Linked DNA regions of Homo sapiens. The protein of the gene in region 2 purifies or fractionates together with the protein of the main gene of each other region. This does not show direct contact. Each region holds a gene or a part of one and is shown on either strand. Other genes may lie near its edges.

The links.
Region 1: the proteins of LGALS3 (region 2) and ATP2B4 purify together in Homo sapiens (affinity purification with mass spectrometry; 4 studies listed by BioGRID and IntAct, with this or other methods). This does not show direct contact.
Region 3: the proteins of LGALS3 (region 2) and COLEC12 purify together in Homo sapiens (affinity purification with mass spectrometry; 4 studies listed by BioGRID and IntAct, with this or other methods). This does not show direct contact.
Region 4: the proteins of LGALS3 (region 2) and PTGFRN purify together in Homo sapiens (affinity purification with mass spectrometry; 4 studies listed by BioGRID and IntAct, with this or other methods). This does not show direct contact.
Region 5: the proteins of LGALS3 (region 2) and SLC26A2 purify together in Homo sapiens (affinity purification with mass spectrometry; 4 studies listed by BioGRID and IntAct, with this or other methods). This does not show direct contact.
Region 6: the proteins of LGALS3 (region 2) and CSPG4 purify together in Homo sapiens (affinity purification with mass spectrometry; 4 studies listed by BioGRID and IntAct, with this or other methods). This does not show direct contact.
Region 7: the proteins of LGALS3 (region 2) and SLC12A2 purify together in Homo sapiens (affinity purification with mass spectrometry; 5 studies listed by BioGRID and IntAct, with this or other methods). This does not show direct contact.

What each region holds. Positions count from the first base shown.
Region 1 is NC_000001.11:203,720,832-203,724,331, forward strand, and holds part of ATP2B4 (plasma membrane calcium-transporting ATPase 4), read left to right. Parts: intron 1-365; coding exon 366-579; intron 580-1,646; coding exon 1,647-1,858; intron 1,859-3,049; coding exon 3,050-3,157; intron 3,158-3,500. UniProt on the Homo sapiens protein: Calcium/calmodulin-regulated and magnesium-dependent enzyme that catalyzes the hydrolysis of ATP coupled with the transport of calcium out of the cell. By regulating sperm cell calcium homeostasis, may play a role in sperm motility.
Region 2 is NC_000014.9:55,139,252-55,142,587, forward strand, and holds part of LGALS3 (galectin-3), read left to right. Parts: intron 1-1,023; coding exon 1,024-1,112; intron 1,113-3,332; coding exon 3,333-3,336. UniProt on the Homo sapiens protein: Galactose-specific lectin which binds IgE. May mediate with the alpha-3, beta-1 integrin the stimulation by CSPG4 of endothelial cells migration.
Region 3 is NC_000018.10:333,202-336,701, forward strand, and holds part of COLEC12 (collectin-12), read right to left. Parts: intron 2,030-3,500; coding exon 1,541-2,029; intron 1-1,540. UniProt on the Homo sapiens protein: Scavenger receptor that displays several functions associated with host defense. Promotes binding and phagocytosis of Gram-positive, Gram-negative bacteria and yeast.
Region 4 is NC_000001.11:116,958,416-116,961,915, forward strand, and holds part of PTGFRN (prostaglandin F2 receptor negative regulator precursor), read left to right. Parts: intron 1-2,827; coding exon 2,828-3,253; intron 3,254-3,500. UniProt on the Homo sapiens protein: Inhibits the binding of prostaglandin F2-alpha (PGF2-alpha) to its specific FP receptor, by decreasing the receptor number rather than the affinity constant. Functional coupling with the prostaglandin F2-alpha receptor seems to occur.
Region 5 is NC_000005.10:149,967,258-149,970,757, reverse strand, and holds part of SLC26A2 (sulfate transporter), read right to left. Parts: intron 1-3,500. UniProt on the Homo sapiens protein: Sulfate transporter which mediates sulfate uptake into chondrocytes in order to maintain adequate sulfation of proteoglycans which is needed for cartilage development.
Region 6 is NC_000015.10:75,681,849-75,685,348, reverse strand, and holds part of CSPG4 (chondroitin sulfate proteoglycan 4 precursor), read left to right. Parts: coding exon 1-130; intron 131-436; coding exon 437-613; intron 614-2,307; coding exon 2,308-2,506; intron 2,507-2,607; coding exon 2,608-2,742; intron 2,743-2,889; coding exon 2,890-3,056; intron 3,057-3,500. UniProt on the Homo sapiens protein: Proteoglycan playing a role in cell proliferation and migration which stimulates endothelial cells motility during microvascular morphogenesis. May also inhibit neurite outgrowth and growth cone collapse during axon regeneration.
Region 7 is NC_000005.10:128,090,266-128,093,765, forward strand, and holds part of SLC12A2 (solute carrier family 12 member 2), read left to right. Parts: intron 1-3,500. UniProt on the Homo sapiens protein: Cation-chloride cotransporter which mediates the electroneutral transport of chloride, potassium and/or sodium ions across the membrane. Plays a vital role in the regulation of ionic balance and cell volume.

The DNA.
Region 1 (3,500 bases), on a different chromosome or scaffold from region 2:
AAGACAGCGTTTCCCCATGACATTGGGACAGGAGTTAGCTCTTCTAAGTCTGCTGTCTTCATCTGCTTATGTAGATGGTAACTTACAGGCCTTAGCTTAGCACTTATGTGTCAGCCACTGTAATAAGCATTTATATGCACTATCTGTATTCTTCAAAAATGACCTTGTGAAGTAGGTATTATTATCCCCATTTTATGGGTGAGGAACTTGAGGCTCAAGGAAGTTAAGTAGCTTTCTCACAGTCACTCAGCTAGGAAGTGGCCAGATTCCAAGTCTAGGTGGGTCGTGGGAGCTGGGCCATCGACAGGGCAAAGGTGGGCTGGTTTCAGAGAAAAGCTAAAAGGACTGGTTCTTCTCCCCGCCAGGATTCCCCATTGAAAGCTGTGCAGATGTTGTGGGTTAATCTGATCATGGACACTTTTGCTTCATTGGCCCTGGCCACAGAGCCCCCTACGGAATCTCTGTTGAAGCGGCGCCCCTATGGCCGAAATAAGCCTCTGATCTCACGCACTATGATGAAGAACATCTTGGGCCATGCATTCTATCAGCTCATTGTCATCTTTATCCTTGTCTTTGCGGGTGAGCCACTTTGGGGGTGGGTAGCAGCTGGGGTCCTGGTTGGAGGTGGGGGCAGAGAAAGAAGGTAGCGTGAGAGCAAGTGCACAGGTCAGGAATAAGCGCAGCTTCACCTCCCAGTGCTTGCTGTGCTCCCGCTACACGGTGCATTATGCTACTATATGTACTCATACAGTACTCTTGAGTACAGTGTGTACTGTGTGTACTCAAGAATTTCACAAGGGAGGCTTTATTATTTCTTTCTTTCTTTTTTTTTTTTTTTTTTTCTTTTTGGAGACAGAGTCTCGCTCTGTCACCCAGGCTGGAGTGCAGTGGCGCTAACTCGGGTCACTGCAACGTCTGCCTCCCAGGTTCAAGTGATTTTCCTGCGTCAGCCTCCCAAATAGCTGGGATTACAGGCATGCGCCACCACACCCGGCTACTTTTTGTATTTTTAGTAGAGATGGGGTTTCATCATGTTGGCCAGGCTGGGCTCGATCTCCTGACCTTGTGATCTGCCCACCTCAGCCCCCCAGAGTGCTGGGATTACAGGCATGAGCCACCACGCCTGGCTTATTTCTTTTTTTACAGATTCAAAAAATTAACCTCAGGTCCCATAATGAGTACATAGTTGCAGTAAAATTCAAACCTATGATTGCCTGACTCCAGCGCACATAGTCTTACTACCATGCTGCACTACATGAGAGCAAGTATCAATGCAGCAAACTGAGAGAGAAGGTAAAATAAGTCAAGACCAGAACTAACATTTAAAATGTTTAATAACTAGTACAACAAAAAATTAGCCAGGCATGGTGGTGCACGCCTGTAGTCCCAGCTATTTGGGAGGCTGAGATGGAAGGATCACTTGAGCAGGAAGGTCCAGGCTGCAGTGAGCCATGATCATGCCACTGCGCTCCAGCCTGGGTGACAGAGTGAGACCCTGTGTCAAAAAAATAAATAACTAGTGCAGCTCAGATATTGATTAATTAGAATGGACACCAGCCATAAGCAAGCAGTATATCTGTACCAACACATTCTTACTCTTAGTTCAGACCACACTTAACCTCCAGTGCTTCTCCTCTCCCCACTAGGTGAGAAATTCTTTGATATTGATAGTGGGAGGAAGGCACCTCTACATTCACCACCCAGCCAGCACTATACCATTGTTTTTAACACCTTCGTGCTGATGCAGCTCTTCAATGAAATCAACTCCCGAAAGATCCATGGAGAGAAGAACGTCTTTTCAGGCATCTACCGCAACATTATCTTCTGCTCTGTAGTCTTGGGCACATTCATCTGCCAGGTGAGATTCTATCTGCAGTTGGGGCAGGAGATCTGGAATGATAAAGGGCAGAAGCTGGGAGCCAGGGTTCCCTACATACCTAGGAAAAGGAATGAAGGAATTACGGGGACTGGAGCTGTAAGTTGAACACTTTGGGATTCCCAATCTGCTTTCTTTTGCATATTGCTCTAGAATTGGAGCCCATTGTGTCAAGAGCTCCAGTGCAGGGCAGCATGTTGACTGGAAATAAAATAATACTTCTAAAATCCTTTCATGATCTTTCTAAATACACAGAAATTTCACAGAATGACCAAAAGAAGTATTCTCTTCTAGTCCCTTTCTATGGCTCCTGTCAGCCTATATGAAATGTGCATGCACATCTAGTATAGACTCTCCCTGTCCCTGCCCTTTGTTCTGAAGGGCTTATGATAAAAAGTGTTGTGCAACTCAAAGAAAGAGAAGTAATGGGATTTGTACATGTATATTACATAGTCAGCCCAGCTTGGACTCCTCCAATATGAGACTATGAGCTGATCATGTCCCATCCCTCAGCAGGGCACCTCCCTTTATTTGTCCCCATCCTCAATTCCTTTTTTTTTTTTTTTTTAATTTTAAAAATACAGATGGGGTCTCACTCTGTTGCTCAGGCTGGTCTCAAACTCCTGGCCTCAAGCAATCCTCCCGCCTCCCAAAGTGTTATTACGCCTGCCATTTTTTCTTTTTGTTTTTTTTTTTTTCGTTTGAGACAGATATCTCTCTCTCTCTCTCTCTCTCTCTCTCTCTCTCTCTCTCCCTCTGCCTCTCTCTCTCTCTCTCTTTTCCCCCCTCCCCCAGGGGGAGTGCAGCCTCAGTCTCCCAGGTTCAGGCAATCCTCCCACCTCATCCTCAGTTCCTAACTCCATCACTGTACCTTCTCCTTGTCACTAACTGGCTTTAGTCACAAGAAGCCACCAGCTCCCCTAACTCCTCCAGATTGTCTGTTAATCATAGTCACAGTAACTATGTCTGTCTCCCCATCAGAGTGCTCTTAAAGGCTGTTTTTGTCTGTCTCCCCTTTGAGATTTCTTCTTTTCCCTTCCCCTGCAAGCAAATCGGGACTTGTACCCAAGGATCCTGAGGAGTGGGATGATGTGGCTTTGGGGGCCTTGGCTGGAGGGCCAGCTGCCTGTTAGTCATTTCCTTGATGGTGGGCTGCCCCTTTCTCTGTTCTAGATTTTCATCGTGGAATTTGGGGGTAAACCCTTCAGTTGTACAAGCCTCAGCCTGTCTCAGTGGCTGTGGTGTCTCTTCATTGGGATTGGAGAACTTCTGTGGGGCCAGGTGAGTACCGGCACACCCTCCTGGTGCATTCTCACAGCCTGCAGAACTCCCCTCCTCTACATGAGATGGAACAAGCAACGGTGGAGACCCCCCAGCTCCTCATCTTCATCTTCTCCTCTTCCCTCCCCACCCCCACTCAAGTTTTCAAGTTCTTGCCATCTCATAGGATCTCAAGGTGGAATGATCACTTCAGAGGTTTCAGAATTCTTCTCTAACTAAGCCTGGAGGTAGAAAAATCCCTTAGCTTGGCTGGGCGCAGTGGCTCACACCTGTAATCCCAGCACTTTGGGAGGCCGAGGCAGGCAGATCACGAGGTCAGGAAATCAAGACCGTCCTGGCTAAC
Region 2 (3,336 bases):
ATGTCTTAGGAGTCATAGAGGACTCTGACTTTTCAAGGCTGAGCAACTAGAGCCATCAGCAAAGCTTTAGCCCAAACTGGGAACTCATGAAGGGGAACTGATGGGGGAGGGGGTAGGGAAGACCATTCTAGTTCACACTTGTTGAATTTGAGGCACTAGCAGCAAATCTAGGTGGGAGGAAGTACAGGACTAGTACACACCAGGACTAGAAAGAAAATATTTGGATAGGCTGGGTGTGGTGGCTCATGCCTGTAATCCCACCACTGTGGGAGGCTGAGGCAGGAGGATCACTTGAGTCCAAGAGGTTGAGGCTGCAGTGAGCTATGATCACACCACTGCACTCCATCCTCAACAACTGAGACTCGGATTTTTGAGACCTTGTCTCAAAAAATAAAAAGGTTTGGGTGATAGTTAAACCCAGGGGGAAGTCTTAAAAAGGGAAAGAAAAGAGGCCATAAATAAATAGAGCTTTGGGGATATTCACAGTACCTTGAATGTAGTTGGTCAATAAACATTTGTGGAATGAACCTCACAGTGTTAACAGTGTTCATTCCATAAATATTGAGTATCTGCCATATGCAAAGCACTCTGCTGGAGCCATGTGAGTACAAAGCATATGAGAACCCACAAGCCCAGAATGTGATATGCTGCTTGCCCCCAGGAAGCAGAATATCCACAGTAAAGCATGTACCATGACAGGGCCTTAAGAGTGATACAAAAATGTTAATGTTGATCACAAGATCTAGCTTAAGCCTTTCCAAAAATAGTCAACATGAATGAGTACAAATTGGGATGGCCGTAGTAATGAGATTTACTGATGGCTTTCTTTTCAATTATTTGTACATCTAGGGAGCCTTATCTCTTTGGCCCCTGGGCAAAGTGGCCTGAGAGTCTGGACAGATGGCATATACTAGAGTTATGTGTTTTTCACACATATTAATAGTGATGGAACTTTAGCAACATCGTTTTTTCCCCAAAGAAACATGACTCCTTATTGACACATATGTACTTGTTAATTCCCAGATTGTGCCTTATAACCTGCCTTTGCCTGGGGGAGTGGTGCCTCGCATGCTGATAACAATTCTGGGCACGGTGAAGCCCAATGCAAACAGGTAAGGAGAGCAAAATTAACAAGTCTACTCTATTTGTAGATTGGTTTTTGAATAAAGAATGGCCTACTTTTTTTCTTCTTGCCCTGTCTTACAGTGCTATTTTGAATTTTAGTAAAATTTTAAAAACTACATATTTAGAATCTTGGCTATACCATCATATAGGATTATCCCATAAATCCATACATATTCCCATATAATTTTGCTAAGCATCATGGCACTCATAGTAAACGGTAACACACCTTATTCTATACTTTGATATGTATTATGTCAGCTAATCTTCATGGCTGAAGGCAGGATAAGGAATATTGCTCTCCCCTTTTTATAGACAAAACTGAGGTTCAGGTTCTACAGATGATCAGTGGCAGGCCTGGGAACCCGTCTTTTGAGCAGATACTATTTGCTTATGGGTTTGAAGAGATTCTACAAGTTAAAAACTTCATCATTATAAATCAACCTTTACTATTGGAAGTAGTTTGATTGATGAGGTGGGCTAGGATGGGGTGAGGCTTTATTTAGGAAAATACATGCTAATTATGGCTGTCCTGGGCTGCTTGGCCCTGGTTGTCACCACTGGTTATGTAGTACTTACATATCATACAAGGAAGCTGGCCATGTCCTGAAACCATCTGAGATGCCTGCCCCTAAGGTTAGTGGAACTGTCTCTAGGTCTTATGGACAGTACCTAAATGGCACAAATTCAAGCCATGTACACAGGTTTATGCAAGAATCCATAAACAGTCTCAGTGTCTGTCACCTTGCTCCACATCCTGCAATCAAGAGATGGACTTCACTTCTGATCTGATAATTTCACATTCAAATGCTCATTCCCTCCACCTCAGCCAGCCTCCTCTGCTTCTGCAATGGTAGTCACTATCCTAAGCCAACCCATCTTTCCACACAGCCTAGACAATTTCTGTAAGCACAGAACTTCCCCGTACAATAATGCCCGTCTCATAGCAAATTACAAAATATATACATCCTCTACCTATGTCCTTATCCGTATTTCCTCCCAACATCACATAGAACCCAGCACACCTTATCCTGTGCACACAGCACTCATGATTTATTAAATATCTGCTCTCCTCCTCCCACAACCCCTAACGCACACTGAATACCCAGTTTGGTATCCTTGTCTTGTTAGAGTCATTTCACTGGAAAGTTTAGTTCTAATAATGCTAGAGATGTAGATTGAGACTGGCAGATCAAAACTAATTCTGGTTGAAATGGTTAATGGTAGTAAACTTAAAAAAAACTGTTGCTTAGTCCTGCAAATTCTATATGACGAACTGTGTAGAAAAAAAAAGTGCTTAAGGTGACAGAGATGACAACATTGTATATTTAGTCAAATACAAATTCTATGCTGTTTTTTCCTTACAAATTTAATCACTGGAAGATCATTTGTGGTTGAATGTGACTGTTACTGGGTGAATCAAAATACACAGACAATCTTTGTTAGTTGGTCTAGAGTGCAGATTAAAATACGAATACCTACTGATGACTCTGGTGTTACCGCTCTATAGAGCGCACTTTGAGAAACTCAGGGATGGGGTTAGTCAAAGAGGACTTGTGTTTGCATTAACCTCCAGGGAGAAGGAACAGGGTCAAAAAGCTAAACTAGCAATTTCATTGGTTCTGGCTCACATCATAGAATGTTTACCACATTTACTATCATGACTTTACAACTTAGCAACAAGATACTGAATATTAACTACCTTATCTCATTCTTGCTGTTTTAGAGGAACTAGGGCTTCTGGTTAATTATGAGGAAGCCAGGTATTTGATGGCTGTTAACTATATAGCTGGCTTGCCTTTACCAGGTATTGAAAGCAAACTGGAAGAGCAGGAAAGAGATAACCATTATCTATAGTAAGGGATAAAGTGTCCTCAGAGTGGCTCTAAACCTCTGTAAGAAAACCTCGAAGGGTTTTCATGAGTCTGTAGGGGCATTACAGATGAATGGAAATATGATCGAAGACAATGAGGCAAAAAATTCAACATCTATTGTCTTGCTTACCTTTAGATTTTGTGATAGTACATAGAATATCAGGCATAGGATATTTTCCAGTTTGAACCCATTCTGATTTATTTGCTTTCCATTCAGAAAAATTTCCTAGGTACTGTATTATGAAATTATTTGCTTTTTAGAAAATTACATGTTCTTTACACAGTGCAAATGTACAGCTTTAATCATTTTAATAACTGGTCTTTGGTTTAAAACAGAATT
Region 3 (3,500 bases), on a different chromosome or scaffold from region 2:
CTTCAGCTGTGTTTCAGAGGCCAAAACTGTGGTCCCGCTGGGAGCAGCCTGAGCGTCCCTGCACGAGGCCCACAGCTGACGTTCACGGACGTGCTCGCAGCAAGCATGACCCAAAGTGGACTGCAGAGCACAAGCCAAAACCACATAATCTGGAAAAGATCTTTGACTGGGTCTTTGTTCTTCTGTGTCTGGATCCGTCTTCACAATGACAGAAATAACAGAAGCAACAACAAGAAGCAGGGCAGGCACAGATGTTCAGCGTCAGTCTGGAATCATACGGAACCCAGGAACACTTGGATGTGAGAACCCAGCACCAAAACTGGGCTCACGGATCAACAAAAATAACCCGGGCCTCACCGACCAAAATCAAGTAGAATAGCGGTTGGGTCAAAGGAGAGAAAAATAGGCTTGGTTGCTAACCAAACATTCGAGTTTTGCCAAAGGTTTAATTATCAAAAGACTAGAAGGCACCGTAACATCTAACACCTTTCTCAAAAAGAAATTAAATGTAGTCATCAATAGCAGAGGGTTCCATCCACATGTTGATGGAGCTAACCGAGGGAGCCCATCTATCTCCAGAGTGAGGATGTAAAACGAGGGAAGAGCGCTCAGGGCGGCCAGCAGGCTTCCCTGAAGGAAATGTTTTGCATTGTGTTTGTCTTCTGAGGGCTGGCTCCTATAAATAAACAAGTGCAAGAGCCAGGTGCAGTGGCTCCCACCTGGAATCCCAGCACTTTGCAAGACTGAGGCAGGAGGGTTGCTTGAGGCCAGGAGTTCAAGACCAGCCTGGGCAACATAGCAAGACCCTGTCTCTACAAAAAGGAAAATAAAAAATTAGCCAGGTGTGGTGGCATACCCCTGTGGTCCCAGCTACGCAGGAGTCTGAGTGGGAAGATCACCTAAGCCCAGGAGGTCAAAGCTGCAGTGAGCTATGTTTGCACTACTTCACTTCGTCATTCCAGCCTGGGTGACAGAGTGAGACCCTGTCCCATACATACACACATAATACATAAAACAAATGAGCACTAGAGAACCCAATGGCGTTTAGAGAGAAACACATGCCTGGTATGGAGGCCTGTTCTGGCAGCAGGGCTCCTGTGCCAGCCCCTATGATGCCTTTGCTGTTAAATAATATGCAGCGGGGGACAAGACGTGGTGGCTCACACCTGTAATCCCAGCACTTTGGGAGACTAAGGTAGGTGGATCACTTGAGGCCAGGAGTTTGAGACCAGCCTGGCCAACACGGTGAAACCCCCTCTCTACTAAAAATACAAAAATTAGCTGGCTGTGGGGGCACACGCTTGTAGTCCCAGCTACCTGGGAGGCTAAGGCAGGAGAATCACTTGAACCCGGGATGTGGAGGTTGCAGTGAGCCGAGATCACGCCACTGCACTCCAGCCTGGGCAACAGAGTGAGACCCTGTCTCAAAACAAAAACAAAAACAAAAATAACATGGGTGGGGCCACACACTGGGGGTTGGCTCAGTCTCAAGCACATGCACTGCCCTGTCCCCCTGGCTGGAGGGAGGGCTTGGACTTACCATTGTCCTCCGGTGCTGGGGTTGGCTCATTCTGCAGGGCCAGGGGCACCACCGCTCCTGATGGGCCAGGAGGGCCGGGGGGGCCCTTGGGGCCTGGCATGCCTGGTACCCCAGGCAAGCCTGGCAGTCCCCGAGGTCCAGGCACCCCAGGCTCCCCAACGGTGCCCTGAAGTCCCTGGAAGCCAGGAGGGCCCTGAGGGCCGGGGAGTCCCTCTTTGCCTGGTGGGCCCGGGGGGCCTGGGTCCCCACTGGAGCCCTGAGGGCCGGGCTTCCCAGGGGAACCACGGGAGCCTTTGGGGCCCTGGGAGCCTTTAGATCCTTTGCCGCCACGCTCTCCGGGGGGACCAGCTGGTCCAATTGGGCCTCTCTCACCCGCAGGGCCAGGTGGTCCAGGCTCCCCCTTCTCTCCTTTCTGTCCCTTGTTGCCAGTTGGGCCAGGGGGTCCCTGGGATCCTCTGTCACCTCTTGGACCCCTGGGGCCCGGTGGACCTAAAGCATAAAAGAAAAAGGTGTCAACATGAAATCCACTGTGAATGATAGTTATGAATAATTTTTCTTCTTATAAAATCTCCAAATTAAAAAAACCTAGCATACAAAGTATATACAGCAGGGAAAGACCATCTGTTTATCATACTACTGTAGACTGTTATGGGCTAAATTATGTCCTCCTCCAAATTCTTATGCTGAAGTCCTAACCCCCAGCACCTCAGGATGGGACTTATTAAGAGACACGGCCTTTACAGAGGTCATCGAGTTAAAACGAGGTGACATGAGTGACCCTAATCCAATAGGACTGGTGTACTTAAAGAAGAGGGGATTAGGTCACAGACACATAGAGGAAAGATCGCTTGAGGGCACAGGGAGAAGATGGACTCCTGCAAACCAAGGAGGGAGGCCTCGGAGGAAACAACACTGCTGACACCTTGATCTTGGACTTGCGGCCTCCAGAACCGTAAGGAAAGAAATGTCTGTTGTTTAAGCCTCCCAGTCCGTGTACTGTGTACTGTGTATATGGCAGCCCAAGCAAGCCAATATACTGTGTGTTCTTCAGTAAGCTCACCCTTCTTCTTCAAGCTTTTAGAATGTATTGTAACAGTGCACAACGTTTTAGTGCCCCACTGATGTCCTTCATGGTGACACTGACAGCCAGGGGCTTATTCTTCACAGTGACTCACATGATTAAACTGGGTTCTCTTAGTCACCTGGGCCTGTGTTGTCATCAGCAGGAAAGTTGTGTAGACCAGGATCAGGATTTCCTCTTACTTATTTCCTCTTGTCCTTAATTTGGTAAATATTTATTAAAGGCTTATATGACAAGCACCGTGTTAAGGTATTGTGGGATAAAGAACTGAAGGAGATTGATGTATTAATTCTCTCCCCATAACCAAGCCTATAACTTCCCTGTAAGCTTCCTCTCTGTTGTACCCCAGCTGGCATGCCTGTGCTGTCCACCAAAGCTGTGGGGGTGCTGCTGTCCTTAGGGCTGGGCCTCACTCACCCATGGGCCAGCTCAGAGGGACGGGAGGTCTCTGTGGGAAAGCCTGGTGGGACTTTGCTGCCCATTGTGGACAGGTGTCCAAACTCTCTGGGTGGGTTTGTAAGTCTAATAATACACATAAGGAAGGTAGGCTAGAGAAAAAAGGTATGTGGACCATCTAATTGGGAAGAAAAGCGAATACTGCTCATCCCCATTATCCCACAAAGAGGCCCATGTAACACAGGATTGTTTTTCTTTCTTTAATTTCTCAGGGGTAACAGGAAATTTCACACAAATAATCTCCTACCAGGAACTGTATAGTGAATGACAATTTTCAGGGTACTTTCACATACATTATGCCACCTGACCTTGCCTGTGCGGTAGAATTCTCATTGCATAAATGAGGACATGTAGGGCCAGAGATGCCAAACTATTTGTTCGAGGATACTTAGCTACTAGGAACAGATACCAAGGAGAGTAAGA
Region 4 (3,500 bases), on a different chromosome or scaffold from region 2:
CTAAGGATGCACTTGAAAGGTGGTAGAAGACAGGGCTCCGTTCCCATCTGCCACTTTTGAACTGTGTGGCCAAGTCACTAACTTCTTTAAAGCTCTCCCCTCAGAAATGGGAACTGTGAATAATGATCACAAATATATACACGTGTATGTGTATATGAATATGTGTGTACCTGCATACACACACACACCAGGCACCAGTCTAGGCATTTTAAGTACAGTATATTTTAACTCTTAACCCTCACAATAACATTATGAGCTAGTTACTGTCATCCCCATTTGTATGGGTGAGGCACCAGAGATCTGAGTAATCTACCCAAGGTCAATAGCAAGTAAGTGGCAGAACCAGGATTTGAACACAGTCTGGCTCCAGACCTCAGCTCCTCACCACTGTTCTCTGCTGCCTCACAGTTTGCTGTTCAGGGTTATGGTTCTCCAGTCCCCACACAGTCTCATGCCACACAGGAAGGGTCTTATGTGTTGTGCTTGAAATGGACTTGAGGCTCCATGTAAGAGCCACTGCTGGCTGCTGCCTACAGATAGTTGATGCTCAGTGTTCTGGGGCAGTCTTACCCTATGCACAGCTGGTGCAAATCTGCCCTTTCCACATGAGATGGACTTAGTTGTCCTGCTCTGCACCCACATTGCTGCATCCTGAATTCGACATGAAAGTTTAGATGTGGAGTAATTTGAGCATTCCTTATCTTTTGCATATGATGGTGTAAACACAGTTGGGTGGTGTGTGTCCTTCAGTCAGTTTTTGCTAGGGTGATGTGTGGTGTGGTGTATTAGCACCATGCTCAGGTTCAGGACATCCCCTAGCAGTGTGACAGCATATGAGCCTGTAAAATGAGCAGTCAGAATGGCCAGTGGATTCCTCTCTAGCCCTGGCAGTCCCACAGCCTGTGGATTTCTCTATGGTGTCCACATCACAGTACGATGTACTCCCATGGATGGGCACAAGCAATTAAATACTTGTGAAGATGACATTTGAGGAATTAGGATTTTGAGTTCTTTGCATTTTCTGGTCCACTGAATCATTCTTGGAGAAATCATGATGTTATAAATTCCATTAGAAGTGTAAATCACAAGAAAAGTTCCTTGACCTCAGCAGTTTGTAATCTGTATGTCATAAATGAAAACAATGTTAAATAAAACCAAACTTTGATCAAGGTGATGCAGATAAAGATAATGTTGATAAATGGAGAGTTCTGTTTAGGTAGTATTATTTTTCTCCCAGAAGGCAAAGTGCTATGGAAGAAAAACGTAGCCCTTTATAGGCCGGGTGCGGTGGCTCGTTCCTGTAATCCCAGCACTTTGGGAGGCTGAGGTGGGCAGATCACTTGAGGTCAGGAGTTTGAGACCAGCCTGTCCAACATGGCAAAACCCTGTCTCTACTAAAAAAATGCAAAAATGAGCTGGGTGTGGTGGTATGTTCCTGAATTCCCAGCTATTTGGTTGGCTGAAGCATGAGAAACGCTGGAACCTGGGAGGCAGTTGCAGTGAACTGAGATCGCGCCACTGCACTCCACTTGGGGACAGTAAGACTGTCCAAAAAAAAAACAAAAGAAGAAGAAGAAGAAAAATGTAGCCTTTTCTAAAAGCCTGAACATTCAGGCAGTAAACATTTACTGAGTGCCTACTGCATAAAAGGCAGTGTATTTGGAGCTTGAGGATGAGACTATAAGCAAAGAGTCATTGTGGAGTGGGCTAACTGGCATACAAAAGTGCATAGATGGCTTATGGGAGCACAGAGTATATCCCTTCTGGGGACCCAGGACCAGGTGACATTGAAGAATAAGTGGAAGTTTGTAGTGCATCTCACATCATCACAGTGGCGTGAGACTGTGTGGAGACTGGAGAACCTCGAGTAATCAGGTGTAGAGGAGCTGGGGGAAAGGAGAGGAAGCCACAAGAGGATTCCAACATCAGCTCCTTGGCAGGTATGGAGGAAGCCTTGGGGCAAAGGAGGACAGAACCATGGAGGTGCAGAAATGGATTAAATTGATGCAGTGAACCCCAGAGGAAGGAGGGGTTTTTCTCCCAGTGGAAACAGGACCGTGGCAGAGGCAAGGGGATGCTAGGAGAATGCTGGCTTCCCTCCCACCCTTCTCTGCAGGGACATGGGGTGCTCACTAGGGCAAGATTCACAGTGACACAGGTGAGTTACATGTGGCAGTAGCGAGAATGTCTGTGGGAGAGTTTGAGGATGGGAGTGCTTATTGACCACTGAACACAGATTCCGCAGAAAAAGTCAGAGGAACGGTAAAGTGAGGACATAAATATGTAGGGGGAATGATGACCTGAGGGCCTTGCATTTAGGGCATGGCCAAGGATGACAGGAAGCTGAGCCACTGTGCCACTGATGGGCCTCGAGTTCTGGAATTTACTGTTGGGTGGGGTTTTCCGATACTGTTCCAGTGGGGGTGTTGGAGGTCTGTGGGCTTACTTGGCATTCCAGAGCAATCTTGGTAGGGGGTGGACACTGAGCTTCTTAAGAGATTCTTCTCAGAAGACCTTAACCTCTTGGGGAAACTGACAGCAGACCCCAGTGCCATGGAAGGATCAAGATTCTGGCCGAGGACATTGGGCTTCTGTTCTTGGGAGGTTTTCTTGGGGTGGGAGGTATGAGAAGCGGTGTTTTACAAGTTTTGCAAAAACACTGTTCTAGGATCCTATCCAATGCAACGACTGATTTCTGTCTCTCTAGTCCGGCAGGAGAAGCATTTAATTGTTAAAACAAGAGCAGTCCTTGTCTCATTCCTTTTGTTAATTCTTGCCATGTTACTCTAATTATTTTCCTATCCTGGCCTTTCTGTCTCTCGTTCAGAACCAGACTACCAGGTGTACCTGAATGCTTCCAAGGTCCCCGGGTTTGCGGATGACCCCACAGAGCTGGCATGCCGGGTGGTGGACACGAAGAGTGGGGAGGCGAATGTCCGATTCACGGTTTCGTGGTACTACAGGATGAACCGGCGCAGCGACAATGTGGTGACCAGCGAGCTGCTTGCAGTCATGGACGGGGACTGGACGCTAAAATATGGAGAGAGGAGCAAGCAGCGGGCCCAGGATGGAGACTTTATTTTTTCTAAGGAACATACAGACACGTTCAATTTCCGGATCCAAAGGACTACAGAGGAAGACAGAGGCAATTATTACTGTGTTGTGTCTGCCTGGACCAAACAGCGGAACAACAGCTGGGTGAAAAGCAAGGATGTCTTCTCCAAGCCTGTTAACATATTTTGGGCATTAGAAGGTAGGAACTTTTTTCTTGTTATTCATTTTTGTTTTGTCTTTGCTTAAGTCGTGCCGCTGTGTGTTGATGCACAGTCACCCTCTGCAGGTTATCACTTACACTAGGAATGTGTGTCCTGGACATTGATCGCCATGCGACCCGTTGCACATGCTCTTTGGACTCACTATCACCCCTCCTCTGTCCCCAAGCCCCAGAGAGGTCCCTCTCCAACTCACTGTCAATCAGCCAAGTCTCTTGTTTCCTGAAC
Region 5 (3,500 bases), on a different chromosome or scaffold from region 2:
TTCTCACTATTGTCCTACCATCCTCTCTCACCTGGAATACTCTAATAGCCTGCAAGATCTGAACACTGCCTCCCTTTTTGCCCTTATTTCCTACTGGCTTTTTTGCAGTTGCTGGAACATGCCAAGTTGATTCCATTCTTAGGGTCACTGTACTTGCTCAAGTTGTCTTTGCCTAGAATAATAATCTCCCAGATCTATACAGGTATGTTCTCATCCTTTGGGTCTCAGCTTTTATTTTTCTTTTTTAGTGACAGGATCTCACTCTGTCACTCAGGTTAGAGTGCAGTGGCATGGTCATAGCTCACTACAGCCTTGAACTCCTAGGCCCAAGCAATCCTCCCACCTCAGCCTCCCAAGTAGCTAGGACTACAGGTACACACCACGATACCTGGCTAATTTGTTTTTATTTCTTTGTAGAGACAGGGTCTTGCTATGTTTCCCAGGCTGGTCTCGAACTCCTGGGCTCAATCAATTCTTCCACTTCTGCCTCCCAAAGTGCTGGGATTACAGGTGTGAGCCACCATGCCTGGCCTCAGTTTATATGTCACCTCCTCACAGAAACCTTCCTTGACCATCCCAACCAAATAAAATAACACCTCCTTCCCAGCATTCCCTATATCCTTATCTGGCTTTATTTTCTTCATAGCACTTCAGACTTCTGAAATTATATTACTTATAAGCAAAACTATTATTTACAGTCTTTCTTGTACTTATTATATTTCCATTATCAAGAACGATGCTTAGCACATACAGTAGAGGTTCAGTAAATTCTTGCTAAAATGAGTAATAACCCAATTTCTACCCAAAATCAGTGGATTAAGACAGAGTTTTAAACAGCATTCTAGGTACCATAACAGAAAGGTTTAGAGTATTCTGAGAGTGGAGAATACACTGCAGGCCAACGTGAAGTAGGAAGCTGCAACGTTAATAGAAAGGGAAAAGGTAACTCAGGCAAGTGAAAGATCACAGTATAGTCCAAGACCCAGGAAAAGGTCACACTAGGTTCCAAGGGTGAAGTTGTAGGAGATAAGGCTGGAGTGAAGGATTAGTTTTTATGCAATTCCAAGAAGTCACGAGTTCATCCTCTAAGCTACAGTTACCAAAGGCCTAACTTCCAAGGCAGGAAAGGGCAGGAGGTTTGCCATTTCAGTGGTACAACTAGGTAAGAGGTGGTGCTTAAAGGACATACACAGACAAATCTAAGATGAAATCTGAGAAGGATCACACAAAAGGAAGGATGATATACAGGAAGATGGAGAAGAAAATGGAAAGATAGGAAGCAGCAAAAAATCTGACTTTGGGTTTTTTAGATTTGAGATTTTTATAATATGTCCAGATGGTGTGTCCAGCAGGCAATTAGAAATGTGGTTCTCAAGTACAGGAGAGAAGCCAAAATTGGAAAAATAAATGGGGCAGAGTGAAAGGTCTACAGTACCTCATTCTCTGCTGAATTCCATTTATATGTTCAATAAACGTTTGTTGAATATGTGCTTTATCTTCCTAACTAGATTAAAATTATTCAAGATGTTCTACACTTTTTGTGTACTATCATAATACCTAGCATAGAATTAGGCACATACAGGAAGTATCTAATAAAGTTTTTGATGGACAGAATGGTTTTTATTTTAAAAAGTTATTTTAACAAAAACTTTTCCAAGAAGAATTAGCTTTGACTTTTGTTGGACAAAAATTTTTGTTTCTTTAAAAGACATTTGAGGCCGGGCACAGTGGCTCACACGTGTAATCCCAGCACTTTGGGAGGCCAAGGCGGGTGAATCGCTTGAGGTCAGGAGTTCGAGACCAGCCTGGGCAACATGGCAAAACCCTGTCTCTACCAAAAATACAAAAATTAGCTGGGTGTGGTGGTGTACACCTGCACAGCTGTAACTCAGCAAGCTGAGGCACAGCTACTCAGCAAGCTGAGGCACAAAGAATCACTTGAACCCAGGAGGTGGAGGTTGCAGTGAACCAAGATCGCGCCACTGCACCCCAGCTGCGGCAACAGACCGAGAGTCCGTCTCAAAAAAAAGACAGTTGAGGCCGGGCACGGTAGCTCACGCCTGTAATCCCAGCACTTTGGGAGGCCGAGGCAGGCGGATCACAAGGTCAGGAGATCAAGACCATCCTGGCTAACATGGTGAAACCCCATCTCTACTAAAAATACAAAAAAAAAAAAAAAATTAGCCAGGCATGGTGGCGGGCGCCTGTAGTCCTAGCTACTCAGGCAGCTGAGGCAAGAGAATGGCGTGAACCCAGGAGGCGGAGCTTGCAGTGAGCCAAGATTGCGCCACTGCACTCCAGCCTGAGTGACAGAGCGAGACTCTGTCTAAAAAATAACATAAATAAAATTAAAAAAAAACAGCTGATACATTTGATACATTGCTGGTAGAAATGTAAAATGGTGCCAACACTGTGAAAAACAGTTTGGTGGTTCCTCAAAAAGTTAAACACAGCACTGCTATATGACCTAGTAATTCCGCTTATACTCAAAGGACTAAAAACTGTAACTCGAACAGATATTTGTATACTAATGTTCATAACAGCACTATTTACAATAGCCAGAAGGTGAAAACAATCCAAGTGTCCATCAACAGATGAACAGATAAAGCATGGTATAACCATAAAATGGAATATTATTTGACTATTAAAAAGGAATTAAGTTCTGATACTCTTCATCTACAACATGGAGGAAACTTAACACCCTTATGTTAAGCAAAAGACAGACACGATGCAAACAAATAAAAAATAAAAAAAAAGAGCTGGATCTAAAAAAAAAAAAAGGACACAAAAGGACAAGTATTGTATGATTCTACCTATACAAAATATCTAGAAAAGGCAAAATGGGCCAGGCAGGGTGGCTCATGCTTATAATCCCAGCACTTTGGGAGGCTGAGGAGGGAGGATTGCTTGAGCCAAGGAGGTCAAGGTTGAAGTGAGCTATGATCATGCCACTGCACTCTAGCCCAGGTGACAGAATAACAACAACAACAACAAAAATATATATATACACAGAGAGAGAGAGAATAGGCATATACATAGAGAAAGAAAATAGAGTTTACTGGGTACTGGGGGAAGTGGTGTTACTGGTTACAGAGTTTCCATTTCAAGTTTTGGAAATAAATAGTAGTAATGGTTACACACCATTGTGCACGTACTTCATGCCACTGCATTGTACACTACATTAATATTAGATGAAGGAGATTTCAGGGACAAAAACTTTACAAAATGCAAACTAATCAGTCCTCAAGTTCATTTCCTGACACCTCCACCAAAAGAAAGAAAGAAAAAAAGTTTATACTAATTTATAGTGACAGAAAGTAAATCAGTGGCTATTTCGGGATAGGAAGTAAGGTGGGGTAGGAGAGAGAGATTACAAAGGGGCATGAGGAGATTTTGGGGATTGATGGATATGTTCACTATCTTGATTGTGGTGACAGTTTTATGTATATATATAGAGAGAGTACCTTTGAAATATGTACAGCTTATTGTATGTCAATTAT
Region 6 (3,500 bases), on a different chromosome or scaffold from region 2:
TGTCTCCGGGCCCTACTTCCCCACTCTCCTGGGCCTCAGCCTGCAGGTGCTGGAGCCACCCCAGCATGGAGCCCTGCAGAAGGAGGACGGACCTCAAGCCAGGACCCTCAGCGCCTTCTCCTGGAGAATGGTATGGCTGTGAGAGAGGCCCAGGGGCTGCAGCCCAGCTCTGGGGGCAGAGTGGAGGGAGCCCTGGGGACTCCCAGTCTGGGGGTTATACACAGAGAGGAGACGGGGAGTCACATTTCAGAAGCACCTATGCTTTAAATACCATATATCTTTTCTTCCTCACAACTCCTCGGAGCCAGAACTTATGGTCCCCATTTTCTACCAATGGAAAATGAAGCCCTAAAAGAGTCAGTCTCCTCCTGCACCCAAAGGCAGGGCATGAAGGGTGCTGCTGGGGCCTGACTGCCAGCCCTGGGCCTGCCCCTAGGTGGAAGAGCAGCTGATCCGCTACGTGCATGACGGGAGCGAGACACTGACAGACAGTTTTGTCCTGATGGCTAATGCCTCCGAGATGGATCGCCAGAGCCATCCTGTGGCCTTCACTGTCACTGTCCTGCCTGTCAATGACCAACCCCCCATCCTCACTACAAACACAGGCCTGCAGGTGAGAGCATCCCTGGGAACACCCCCATGTCTGCTTCGAGAAAGAGGCCAGCGTCCCCTACTTCGCGGCTCAGAGCTCCCCCAGCTCTGATCCTCAGTTTCCTCCTCTGCAAAATGGGGACGCTGCCACATGCCTCACGGGGTTGTTGGAAGGAGAGAAGTGAGATTGTGCTGAAATAGAACACAGGTGGGAAGTTTTTTTATTGGATGTTTGCAAGTATGGTAGGCAGACTTCTGAGCGGCCACGGGTGGCTCTGCTGTTCCTTCTTCTGTGGCTAAGGACCAGAACATCTGACAGAATCACTTACAAGCCCTTAAGGGCAGGCATCAGGGCGGAAGCTGTTAAGTTTCCCACCTTCACCCAGCAAGTGAAGGCCATGGCTTGGCTCCCCAAACTCCTGCACAAGGCTGTTCCACGCCCAGCAGGACAGTGCAGGGAAGGCCCTGGTGAACTTCGCTCAGGCAGAGGTAAGGGCCCCACTCTGCAGGTGGAAGTTGAGGCCCAGACGTGGGATGGAACTTCTCCATGGTTGCAAAAGTAGTTCTGGTGGAACAGAAAGGGCATGGCTTTACAAAGCCCACATGGCAGGGCTTTGAACCCCAGCTTCTGGGGTGCATCCTCCCCGGTCAGCAGGAGCCACTGAAGTTTCCATAAAGGGCTGACTTGGGCTGTCTCTGGCATGGGGTGCCTGGGGCGGGGGTGGGGGCGGGGCCTTGGTGGTCTAGGATGTGCCCGTAGCGGGTGGCCTGGTGGTGCGGAAGCCGCCAAAGAGTGGGACACAGTGCTCTGGAACCACAGGCCAGGACGGCTGTGTGGCAGCACAGCCACCAGGTGGTGCCATCTACCTGTGTTTGCTCCAGAAGCCTAGTGCTGGGGTCCTGCCCCGCAACATTATGGCCCCTCCTGCCAGGGCTGGGCCTGAGGGCTCCCTGGGGCCGGGGGAGGAAGCCCAGGAATGCCAGAAGGCTCTGTTTTCCGGGCATGTGAGTCCCACTGCAGCTCTGCCCGCAAGTAATTGACCCAGCAAGACTGGTACCAGGACCTCAGGAACAGGCACCTGCTCTGCTTGCAAGTGGGAGGCCTGAAAAAGGGGTCCCCTTTGCCCAACATAAGGAGGGCCCCTAACTGCTCTGGAAGCACCTGGGCCCATCCCACGCTGATTCTGTGCTGCAGAACAGTGCCAACCATCAGCCCCCCACTCTCTGCGCCACGCACCCCTCCCTCAGCTGGAAGGAGGGCCCATTTCTAAAATCACCATTCCCACCTGTGCCCGGCCCCGGCCAGGCACACACGGAGGCTCTGAAAGGAGACCCCTGTCCCACCAGTGAGACAGATTAGGGAGCACTGTTGGTCAGCGCTGGGGGTTTCTGGGAGTGAGAACTTGGTGAGGGTAAGAGCTGGGGCCTTCCTGGGTAGGGGACATAAGCTGGCCTTGAGGGACACACAGGACTAGGGCAGATGGAGAGCAGGGAGGCTGGGCCTGGAGGGTGACCTTCCCTGGGGCCTTCCCTGGGGTGACAGGGAAGGTGAATGCGGGAGGCCCTTTGTGCAGGGGAGCCAGAGTGGCGCCAGCCTCGATGCCACCCGAGGGGCTGAGCCGCAGCAGGACTGGAGCCCTGGTGGCAGCCCAGGGCCGGGGAGGAAGGGGTGGGTGAGTGCGGCAAGGCAGAACCTTCACAGGCCTGTGTTCCCAGATGTGGGAGGGGGCCACTGCGCCCATCCCTGCGGAGGCTCTGAGGAGCACGGACGGCGACTCTGGGTCTGAGGATCTGGTCTACACCATCGAGCAGCCCAGCAACGGGCGGGTAGTGCTGCGGGGGGCGCCGGGCACTGAGGTGCGCAGCTTCACGCAGGCCCAGCTGGACGGCGGGCTCGTGCTGTTCTCACACAGAGGTGGGTGCTGAGGGCCGGGCCTCGGGTTCCTGCTGCCCACGGGGGTGCCCTGAGATGGGGAGCCGGCTCGGGCCAGCTGGACCCAATGCCCCTGTCCCCAGGAACCCTGGATGGAGGCTTCCGCTTCCGCCTCTCTGACGGCGAGCACACTTCCCCCGGACACTTCTTCCGAGTGACGGCCCAGAAGCAAGTGCTCCTCTCGCTGAAGGGCAGCCAGACACTGACTGTCTGCCCAGGTGGGTGTGCTGATCATGGGCATTCCTGGGTGCCAGGAGCTGGGGCGGAGCTGAGGGTGGCATGCCAGGGTCACGCTGCCTCTTTGCAAACACAGGCCTGGACCTGGCTCCCAGTCAAAATCTGATATCCCCTTTTGCCTCTGGCAGGGTCCGTCCAGCCACTCAGCAGTCAGACCCTCAGGGCCAGCTCCAGCGCAGGCACTGACCCCCAGCTCCTGCTCTACCGTGTGGTGCGGGGCCCCCAGCTAGGCCGGCTGTTCCACGCCCAGCAGGACAGCACAGGGGAGGCCCTGGTGAACTTCACTCAGGCAGAGGTAAGGGCCCAACTTTGCAGCCACCACTCAGATGCCCCCAGCCTCAGGTGGCCGCTGTGCCATGGACATCATGTGGACATGGATGCCAGCTCCAGCATCACTGGCAGCAGACGTTCCCGGGCCTGCCATTGTCCAGGCGCTAGTGTCCTGTCCTCCAGGAGCCGCCAGGCTGGCAGGGCAAGTTCATGTTCCCAGAAGGAGGGAGAAGGATGCAGAAAGTCGGGGATACAGGGCCCTAGAGCAGGGCTGGGGTCTTGGGGTATAGCTTCCAGAAGGAAGCTACAGCCGGACCCGAGGGTCTGGAGAGGGGGCACCATGTGGGGGCACTAGTGGTACCCCAGTAGCTGATGAGGGGCAGTGCTTGGTGGGGGATGGAGTTGGACGTGAAGCAGCGGCTGGGCCTGTGGGCAGAGGTGTGAGCCTGGGGCTCAGGTCAAGTGCCAG
Region 7 (3,500 bases), on a different chromosome or scaffold from region 2:
AAAAATCAGTACACTGCTAAATTGATATCTTCTCTGTGTGTATTTATGTTCATACATTTTAAAATCCTGTGAGACTAGAATTTAAAGGACCAAAATAGAGTTTCTTGGTTCTTATGTGTGGAGTGTGTTTGCTTTCAATGATATTTCATTATATGTTACATATATATATTTGGGAAGTCTATAGTATAGTCCTATGCTGAAGTGAAATAAATGTGAACCTAGTTATTCAACAAATCCTTGTTGAACATCAACAACAACACTGTTCTAAATGCTGGGGATATAGCAGTAAACAAAACAAAGTCATGGGGCTTTCATTCTAGCGGTAGGAGACAATAAACAAACAAAATTAAAGCAGGGCGAGGAAAATTAAAGGTGGCTAGATGATGGCTGGGTGATGCTGTTTTAGCATTGTTAGGGAAGACCTCTGATATGTGAGCAGGCTCTAGAAAGGGGTGACCCCCATGCAGATACCAGGGAAAGAACACTCTAGGCAGAGGAACAACAGATACCAAGACCCTGAGATGGGAGTGTGCTTGGTGTGATGGAGAGACAGGGAGGTCAGCAAGACCGAATTGATGAGGCAGTGTGATAAAGTCAGGGGGTAGTGAGGACCAAATAGCGCAGAACCTTGCAGATCATGATAAAGACTTAGGATTTTACTCTGAGTGATTTAGGGGAAGGCATTGTAGGGTTTTGAGCACAGATTTGACATGATCTGACTTATGTTTTCAAAATACCACGCTGATTGTTGTGTAGAGAATATACTGTAAGGGGGCAAGAGTAGAAGGCAGGAAACCAGTTAGAAGCCTACTGCAATGGTTCCATTAAGATGATAATGACTTTTACTAAGGTAGTAGTGATTGATACAATGAGAGGTGTTCAGATGCTGGATGTGTTTCAGAGGTAGAATTGTTGGGATTTGCTGATGGTTTGGATGAGGGGATGTATGGACAGAGTAATACTAGGGTTTTCCCCCTATTTAGAATGGAGTTGATATTAATGGAGAAGTCTGTGAGAAGGGCAGGTTTGGGAGATGGACTCAAGATAGGGTTTCATTCTACAAATTAGTTCTCCAATGAGGCAAACAGGTAAAATTGCAGATACTGGTTTGTTAAATAGTAGAACTTAAGAAAACAGCTTTCATTTTTAGCGTAAAAATGTGCTTTTGCTCTTCAGGTAAAACCATGAAAACTAGTAGTCTTTCAAATACTGTACAAAGGGGTAGGGAACTAGTGGGTTGATTCCACAAAGTGAAAGCCCACTGAGGGTGAGCAACAAGGAAAATTACTTAAAATACTGAAGTTAAAAACATTAGTGGTGTCTCATTTAAACCATGAAAGCTACTATCAGCTGAGGCCCTCCTTTGTCTTTTTCCATTTTCACTAGGATCTCTACCAACACTAGCTTAAAGCTATTATGAAAAACTTGGAGCTGGTAGAGAACTTGGGGGTTTCTAATTGGAAGAAGGGGGAAAGCCAAAAAGAAAAAATAGCTTAGTGGAATGTTGACTCTCAGCAGAAGCTAATTATGGCTAGTACACTCATAGTATCATTGGACTCAGAAATTTCCCTGCCTTAATTTTTAAAAAAATTCTGTGCTTTTTCTGAATAGTCACAAATTAGATATTCATCTAGGTTCAGAATTCTGGAAACCTGTGGGATAGTTCTTTGTTGGGTAAGTGTGAATTAGTTCTTCCATCAGTTTAGTTTCAAACAGAATTTGGTATGGTATGCTAGCCATTTTGGAGACTTTTGCAAGGGAGCGTAGGTGGTTTGGCAGGGCAGGCTTGAGTATTCCAGTGGGGAAAGACTTAGAGGACCCTAATCATTAGAGACCTGCCCTTCCCACAGACTTCTCCATTAATATCAACTCCATTCTAAATAGGTATTACTCTGTCCATACATCCCCATCCAGACTATCAGCAAATCTGAACAATTATACGTTTGAAACACATCCAGTATCTCAATACCTCTCATTGTATCAGTCACAACCACTTTGGTAAAAGCCCATTATCATCTTAATGGAACCATTGCAGTAGCCAAGATGAGAGGAAGGGGGTGATTAAAACATTTAGCTGCAATTCAAGAATTGGGCTATAGGGCTGACGGTCTTGGAAAGAGGTAGGAAACTTCACAGAGCATGTCTGGACTGAGGACCCCAGTCCGAAGTTTGGACTAGCAGTTGTTGTGATTATGGCCTGTTACCATTTAAGGTCTTTATCAGTGCTGTCCGATAGAAATATAATATGAACTACATATGTCATTTAAAAAAGTAAAGAATCAGGCAAAATTAATTTATAATATACCGTATTTTATTTGACACTGTGTCTAAAACATTCATTGCAGATATAATGAATATTAAAACATTTATAATGAGATATCTCAATTTCTTTTTTTTGTACAAAGTTTGAAACCCCGTGTGTTTTTCACATACAGTACAGCACATCTCAATTCAGACAAACATTTCAATGGTGTTGAAGTAGTAGCTCCTTGTGACCTTTGATTACTATATTGGACAGTGTAGATGTAAACAGTACTTGGCAGTTTGGTTCTGAGGTCCTATGATTTTCATTTTTCTTCTTGGATATTTAACTGTTCCTGTCAATAGTTTACTTCTGTTAAAGAAATTTGAGTAGCTTCTATCTGACAGAAAAAGCGGAATATTTTATTTAACTCTCATTCCTTTCCAGGTACAAGCTCTTTCCTTCCTTCCTCAGCCAGACTTGTTGAGAGTATTGTTTATAATTGCCGTCTTTCCTTCCTTACCTTTTACTCAAACTGCTGTAGTGTGGCTTCTATTTTGCATAAATAGTTCTTGTTAAAGTCACAAGTGATCTCCATTCTTATCACAAATTTCAGGAAGTTTTTGTTTTGTTCTGTTTTGTTTTGTTTTGAGCAGTGTTCAGCTTTCAGGCAGCATTTGGTGTTCTTTTGAAGTGTTTTGGTCACTTCCTTGGCTTCTTAGTTTTCCTTCTGCCTTTCTGACTCTTTCAGCCTCGCATCCTTTGCAGTCGCCTCCTTCTCTAACCTGAACATCCTCAAGGCTTTATTTGGACTTTTCTCCTTCCTTGTTCCTCTTTTTTCTCTCCTTATGCTACATCATCTGTAGTCCAATGACTCCCGAAATTTCGTCTTCTACCCACACTCCTCTGAGTTCTGGGTATCCAATGCTTGCTTGACATTTTTGTTTTATGTCTCAAAGATAACTCAAGCTCACAAACTTAGTATTTCTTCCCATTCCCTCCAGAAACAAGAATCCAGGCCCTCTGCCAGTGTGTGCTATATCTCTCGGAATGGTACCACTATTCATCATACTGCAAAAGTGAGAAACCTATGAGTCATCCTTGACACTTTTCTCTCATTCCCCCATCCAATCACTGAGTTCTGTCAACTTGAATTTCTAAATATTCTTTTCATCTAAGCTGCTACCATCCTATTAGGTTGGTGTAAAAGTAATTGCATTTTTTGACATTGAAAGTAATGCCAAAAACCGCAATGACT